Homo sapiens: one gene and its partner. The protein of the gene in region 1 purifies or fractionates together with the protein of each later gene. This does not show direct contact. Each region holds a gene or a part of one and is shown on either strand. Other genes may lie near its edges.

Region 1 (4,156 bases):
TTCACCATGTTGGCCAGGCTGGTCTCAAACTCTTGACCTCAAGTGATCAGCCTGCCTTGGCCTCCCAAAGTGCTGGGATTACAGGTGTGAGGCTCCACACCCAGCCCCTAGCTTCTAGGTTCAATAAAAGTTCAAATACATCTATTTCTTACCATTGGCTTTTTTGTTTTGGATATAAAATTATTTCCTTGTGCTAATTATGTGGTCTTTGTTAAGAACAATTTTAATGACTGTGTAATCCACAGCGTTTATGTATCCATTTATTTAAGCATTTCATTATTGGTGGACATTTAGGATGAATTTTTTTCTACCACTCTGTGTATGTATACATCTATTATAGGTCATACTATTATTTTTATTATGGAAAATTCCAAGTACATAAAAAAGAAAGGTAATAATGAATCCTCCCCAACCAGCCTCAGCAATTATCAACACATGGCCCACCTTGTTTCATCCCTACTCCCACTACTCCTTGGTTCCACTATTGCCAAGCAAATCCCAGATGTCTCATTTCAGTTTTGTAAATATATAACTGTAAAAGATAACCACTCTGAAAAGATAGCCACATTACAATTATTCATTAAGAAACCCGGCAGGGTGCGATGGCTCACGCCTGTAATCCCAGCACTTTGGGAGGCCGAGGCCGGCGGATCACCTGAGGTCAGGAGTTTGAGACCAGCCTAGCCAACATGGAGAAACCCGGCCTCTGCTAAAAATACAAAAAAATAAGCGGGGCGTAGTGATGGGCGCTTGTAATCCTCTTTACTTGGGAGGCTGAAGCGGGAGAATCGCTTGAACCTGGGGGCGGAGGTTCCAGTGAGCCGAGATCGCGCCATTGCACTCCAGCCTGGGCGACAGAGCGAGACTGTCTCAAAAAAAAAGAAAAAAGAAATGAAAGAAACCCAGCCATTAAATATCCAGCGACCACATTGCTCCAATTTTCTTATAATTTTTTTTTTTTTTTTTTTTTTTTTGAGACGGAGTCTTGCTCTGTCGCCCAGGCTGGAGTGCAATGGCACGATCTCGGCTCACTGCAACCTCCCCCTCCCGGGTTCAAGCGATTCTCCTGCCTCAGCCTCCCAAGTAGTTGGGATTACAGGCGCCCGCCACCGCGCCTGGCTAATCTTTGTATTTTTAGTAGAGCCGGGGTTTCGCCCTGTTGGCGAGGCTAGTCTCGAACTCCTGGCCTCAAGTGATCCGCCCGCCTTGGCTTCCCAAAAGTGCTGGGATTACAGGCGTGAGCCACCGTGCCCGTCCTATAACTTCTTTTAACGGTTTGAATTCAGATCTAAATAAAGGTCCCATGTAGCGATTGGTGGATAGCTCTCTAGTGCTCCCCATCCTCGCTTCCTAGCTGCCGCCCCGAAGAGTGGCTGGGGAGCAGGCATTTGTGCGTCTTGCAAGCTTCGACAGATAGGAAGTCCCAGGCGGGGACTGTGACCCCCGCCGCTGCCCTGGCTGAGTTCCCACCTGGGCCGCTGCAGGGAGGAGGTCGCAGAGCTGCCGGCTGGCGCCGCCCCGCCGCTCTCCTGCCTGCCCGCTCCCCGCATGAGCCCCGCGGCCCCGCCCTGCGCCACCCGCCCGCCCGTGGGACTCAGTGCGGCCAAGCCGGGCTCCGCAGGTGAGGCGCGCGCGGGGGCCTGGGCGGAGGACTCACGGGGCAAAGCGCTGGGGGAGCGGGTGGGCGCCCACCGCTGGGCCTCCCTAGGGAAGGGGTGCAGGTGATGGATGGCGTGGGGGACAGACCGAGAGAAAGAGGGTGGGCAAAGTGTGGGTGCAGCGGCTTTAAGGGCTCCTGGGATTGGAGGGCACTTGGAGGGGGGGGACGATGAAACTTCGAGAAAAGGGATCCAAAACTACTTAGTAATATAATAACAGCGATGACAACTGTTGCAATAACTATCACAATGATTATTTGTTATAATAATATAGCAGCAGTAAAAACAATAGCATTAGTAATAATAGCTACGATTCATTGCATTCTTATATGTGCCAGTGCTGGGCTTAGTTCTTTATGTATTTTATGTATAAAGTAATGCCTACCTCATAACAGTTGTGTGGAAGAAATGGAAAAATGCAGGTAAAGGCCGGGGCTCACACCTGTAATCCCAGCACTTTGGGAGGCTGAGGCAGGAGAATCACTTGAGGCCAGGAGTTCGAGACCAGCCTGGCCAAAGTGGTGAAATTCCATCTCTACTAAAAATACAAATATTAGCCAGGTGTGGTGGCGGGCGCCTGTAATCTCAGCTACTCCGGAGGCTGAGGCAGGAGAATCGCATCAATCCGGCAGGTGGAGGTTGCAGTGAGCCGAGATCAGGCCACTGCCCTCCATTCTGGGCGACACAGGGAGACTCTGTCTCATGAATGAATAAATAAATAAATAAATAAATAAATAAATAAATAAACAAATAAAGTTGATAGTTTTTTGCCAGGGAGGTATGAGTGCCATGCCTACTATGCAGAGGAGGAAATGCAAGCCTATAGAGGTTAAGGAATTTGCCCAATAGCACACAGCTGGTTAAGGTTTGGTTCAGGTTAAAGCTGGGGTCTTATCCCTGGGGTGGCACCTGCCACCTGGAGTTTTAGGTTCAGGGCTGCTGAGCTGACACTGGAGAGCAAAGCCAGTGAGCGTTGGAATCATTTAGCTCTGGGTTTGCCACCTGGCTGTGCATGCATAGCTGTGTGACCTTGGGCAGGTCACTTGACCTCTCAGAACCCATTTGCTCATCTGTGAAGTAGAGATAATGGTAATGCTTGCCTCAAAGATTCTACAAGAATTAAGCGAGACAATGTATGTTAGAGAGGCGTGTACTTAGTTCTGTCTCATTAAATGACTGCTGGGATTAAGGTTACTAGGGAGCCCCACAGCCCTGCATCATAACCCCCTCCCTGCCATTCGCTTGCTGTGTGATCGTTCATGTGCACTGAACTCATCTGTGAAACTGAGTACGGTAACCCTTCAAGGCTGGTGGAAAGAGTAAATGGCAGGGAGGAGGGTTTGGTGTGATGCCCGGCTCATAGAGGATGCTCAGTGAGACCAGTTTCTTCCTTTCTTTCCTTCTTTTCCTCATTGAATCCAAAGCCATTTGTTCTCCGGAGACTTAGGAGAGAAGAAGGGGAATAGCTGTGCCTAAAATCTCACTATTAGTGGCAGGGCTGGGACAGGAACTCAAGTCTGGGCATCTCTAGTCCACCAAGCTCCCATCCCCTTGACTGCTTGAATTTTTTTTTTTTCCAGCCAGGGTTTTGCTCTGTCACCCAGGCTGGAATGTAGTGACATGTGATCGCGGCTCACTGTGGCCTCGACCTCCCAGGCTCAGGCAATTCTCCTGCCTCAACCTCCTGAGTAGCTAGGGCTACAAGCATGCACCCAGCTAATTTTTAAATTATTTGTAGAAATGGAGTCTCCCTATGTTGCCCAGGCTGGTTTTGAACTTCTGGACTCAAGTGATCCTCCCACCTTGGCCTCCCAAAGTGCTGGGGTTACAGGAGTGAGCCACAAAGCCTGGGCCTACTGGACTTCTACAACCACTGTGAGCTGGGCCATTCCAACACCAAGCATTTGTAATCAGGCTGGTATTCTATAAGCCAGACACATTTACCTATTTTGGATTAATAGTCATGAAATGGCATTTTTTTTTTTTTTTTTTGGTGGAAAATCTCCCAGCTAGTGTCAGTATGCCTAGAGTTATGTGTTCATGACCCAGAGCTTAAATGGAGCAGCCTTGCAGACAGTGAAACTCCATGTAATTGTGAATTAATGGTTTGTGTCTGGGCTGGGGTGTCCCAGCAGGAGGGGAACCTCCTAGCATCTTTGCAAATTTCACAGAAGATGAAGTGACTCTGATCCATGGGTTGACCAACTCCTCCGGGTTTGCCTGTGACTTTCTGGTTTCAAAATGGAAAGTTTTGAGTCCTGGGAAACCTTTTGGTCCCGGGCAACTGGGAAAGTTGATCACCTTGCACATCCAAACATTCATAGTTTCTCAGGAAATTGTCTTCATTTCAGGTTTGTGGTTATTGTTGCTGTTTTCGAGTAGTTTTCACCACAGGGATCCTTGCCTGACTGATTTCCTCCAGTCTGCAGTGGGGGAATCTTTCAGTGGGGAAGGGGTATGGCCCATAGAGAAAGCTATCGACCTCCAAATCATCATCG
Region 2 (3,500 bases), on another chromosome or scaffold:
ATAGGAAAGTCAATATCATAAGAGTATCAATTCTACCCAAATTCATATATAAATTCAGTGCATTTCCAATTGAAATCTCCACAGAATTTTCTTTGAGAGACTGTACAGGCCGATTCTAGCATTGATACGGAACTGTAAAAAGAAAAAAAATAGTTGGGATGCTTCTGAAGAAGAATCAGATCTAAGGGGGCTTGCCTTACTAGGCGTCAAGACTTATTTTAAAGCTGTGTTAATTATGGCAGTGGTATATTGATGCAGGAATTCACAAATAGACTAGTGAAACAGGGTAGGGTCTAGAAACCAGCTCATTTTTGTATGTAATCTTGATTTATGACAGAGCAGTCACTCATAGTTACAGCAGAAGAAAAAGGGACCATTACATAAATAGTGGTGGAACAACTGGTTATCCATAGAAGAAATAAATGAAGTTGGATACTTACTGTATATCATAGTTAAAATCAGTCCCTTGAAGATTAAAGTCTTAAATATAAAAAACAAAAAAAAAATTTTTTTAATTAGTTGAGTGTGGTGTTATGTGATCCCAGCCGTGGTCCCAGCTACTCAGGAAGCTGAGGTGGGAAGATCACTTGAGGAGGTCGAGGCTGCAGTGGCCCCTGATTGCACTACTGCATTCCAGCCTGGGTGGTGACAGAGTAGTGATACCCTGTTTCAAGGGAAAAAATAAAAAATAAAAACACTTACTATACAATTGTTCTGTAGTTGGCATTAAACAGGAATGTTTTGAAAGATTTCTTAACTTGCTTTTATGACATCAGGAGAACAGTGGTGTGTCCCATCATCGATGTGATCAGTGATGATACTTTTGAGTACATGGCAGGCTCTGATATGACCTATGGTGGGTTCAACTGGAAGCTCAATTTTCGCTGGTATCCTGTTCCCCAAAGAGAAATGGACAGAAGGAAAGGTGATCGGACTCTTCCTGTCAGGTAATTAATTTGTCAGACATTTTGCCTAAAGTGTTATTGGCAGAAGGTTGTGGAGCTTTGGGAATCATATCAAATGGATAAGTGTATTTTGAGAAACGTGAAGCATTCGTATACCTTATGGTAGTTAACAGCCATCTTTCACATATGTGAGTGTTTTAAAGAAGGATTTCTCCTCTAATAAAATTAGAAATTTTTGCTTATTCTATAAATCTAGTGCACATGAGAAATGATGACATGCGTGTTTTTTCATTCCTTTATGAACATTTTGCAAATGCGTCAGATCTGTACTTTAATTCAGTTATTAAGGATAATAATACTTAGCTTAATTAATTGTGTCAGTATGTGAAGATACTACCTAAAACTGGGTCCTTGCATTAAAATGTACAATTTTAAATTCAGACTTGTACCATCTGGATGACAGTTATTGACTGGTAAAGTTAGAAAAGCTTGTGTAAAACATAAAAATAGCTAGAATTGACACAAAATATAAAAAAATTCATTAATCCATTTATTCTCTGATTTTTTTTCTCTACTTGGTCATATATAGATTTTTTTTTCAGGATGGAATAAAAATCTTCATGCTCTTTTTAGAACATGAAATTGAGACCTTTGAGCTCTTCTGAGCCATCCTAGAATTTAGCCCCATTGTACCGACCTGCTACTTCTGTATTAAGAGTTCCTTCAGAACCAGGCTTCAGCTTTTCTGTTTTTGGGCCTCCTGCGTCTGCCTTCCCTTGAATTCAAGTTCAGTTCTGGCAACACTGAAGAGATTTTCCACTGACTGTGTGCTTTTTTCCTTAGCCTGAGTTCTTAGTAGTAGTAGTGCAAGGGACTTTTCTTCTCTTTAGCTGTTAGTGCAATTCACTATCTAAATCAGGGGTTCCTAAACATTTCAAAAATGACAAAATTTTTTGAAAATCTGGTGAAAGCTATGGGTCTTCTCTAATGGAGAAAAATGCACATGTACATGCAGAAGATTTAGCACACAAAAAACTCAGGTCAAGAAAACCCTGTATTAAATGATAATTCTGAATTTTGGCTGTTTCTTTTAAATCCTTTTCTCATTCTTTTTTTCTTCTAAAATCAAAATAAGTCCAAACCTTTTTTGGAAACAACTGTTTCCTCTGGAAAGGCAATGAGTACATTTTAGGGTTCATCTTAAAATATAATCTTCGTGGTATCTTTGGTCCCTGTAACTTATTTTTTTCTCCTGGTTGGAGTTTACTTTTTCTCCATACTTGTTCTTTATAAAAATCAAATGGGCTGATATTCATTTATTTAAATCTTCCTTCATTTCTTAATAATTTCTCTGCTTAATTTCACATGTTCCCACTCCCTTTGCATACCTGAGCCCTATTTTGATGAATTAGACTCCTCTTTTGCAGAAAATATACCACACAGTCAGGAAGGAACATATTGATTTTATTCTATATTTTGTCTCCTCTCCTTAAAGATTTCTAGTGGGTATTAGGAAAAGACCTCACTGTTTCCATCCAGTTTATCTTATGTATTTATACTATTTGCCACCCTTTAGAACATGGCATGGTAACTCTAACCTCAATCTACTTGGTTAATATAGTCAACTGCCTTGAAGTTGCTAGGATCTGTGGAGTGGGTGCACAGTCAGATGGAGAGGATTGTGAGGAACAGCTTTAATTTAAGGAGTTTGAGATCTAAACTCAGTTAGGACCTGAGGGCCAAGAAAGATAGAAAGTACTCTTAGGACTGTGACAGAGAGGGATGTCTGGGCAGAAGCATGACACAGCAAGTCTAGCAGTCAGCATGACCATGGTGCAGGTCATGTGTGAAGACCAAATAACACAGCATAAAACACAGAAAGCCCCTGGGGCGTATGAAAGTTTATGAAGAGTGTGAGAATAAGTACTTACTCAGTAGTTATAAATAGTTATGAAACAGCTTTTAAAAACAAAAACTGATTGATTGTAAATTTTAAATTGCTAATGGTATAGCATTATTGAATTTCAGGACACCTACCATGGCAGGAGGCCTTTTTTCAATAGACAGAGATTACTTTCAGGAAATTGGAACATATGATGCTGGAATGGATATTTGGGGAGGAGAAAACCTAGAAATTTCCTTTAGGGTAAGTTCCCTTAAAAAAATTTAATCTTTTATTTAACTTCAAGTATAGATGTGCATTGATTATTCATGTATCTCTACATAAAAAATAAAAATTGAATTTAATACAAGTTTAATGTAACTTCAGAGCCTTCAGTCCATAAAAAGGACTGATAGTAAGGGTTCATTATAAACTATTGAAGCAAATAATTTAGTTACCTTTGAAGTTCAGCTATAAAACTTACACAAGATTCCCTAGTTGTTTTTAATTTTTATTATTTTCAAGGAAGTAATTTAAGCTCTAAAAGCTAATATATAGTTTGGATATGCTACTTTGCTGCTTTACTCTCAAAAACATAAATTTCACATTTAAACATAAATTTCACATTTTGTAATATGCTTTTTATTTTAGTGTGAAAATTTTTTTTATATAAAACCTAGTCACTTTACCAGCTTTATATTTTTCAATAAAAA

What was found. The genes of interacting proteins can lie anywhere in the genome.
Region 2: the proteins of OTOA (region 1) and GALNT1 purify together in Homo sapiens (affinity purification with mass spectrometry; one large-scale study listed by BioGRID and IntAct). This does not show direct contact.

The regions. Positions count from the first base shown.
Region 1 is NC_000016.10:21,662,612-21,666,767, forward strand, and holds the start of OTOA (otoancorin isoform 1 precursor), read left to right. Parts: upstream 1-1,356; 5' UTR 1,357-1,621; intron 1,622-4,156. UniProt on the Homo sapiens protein: May act as an adhesion molecule.
Region 2 is NC_000018.10:35,686,240-35,689,739, forward strand, and holds part of GALNT1 (polypeptide N-acetylgalactosaminyltransferase 1), read left to right. Parts: exon of another isoform or gene 1-132; intron 133-440; exon of another isoform or gene 441-692; intron 693-776; coding exon 777-947; intron 948-2,933; coding exon 2,934-3,051; intron 3,052-3,500. UniProt on the Homo sapiens protein: Catalyzes the initial reaction in O-linked oligosaccharide biosynthesis, the transfer of an N-acetyl-D-galactosamine residue to a serine or threonine residue on the protein receptor.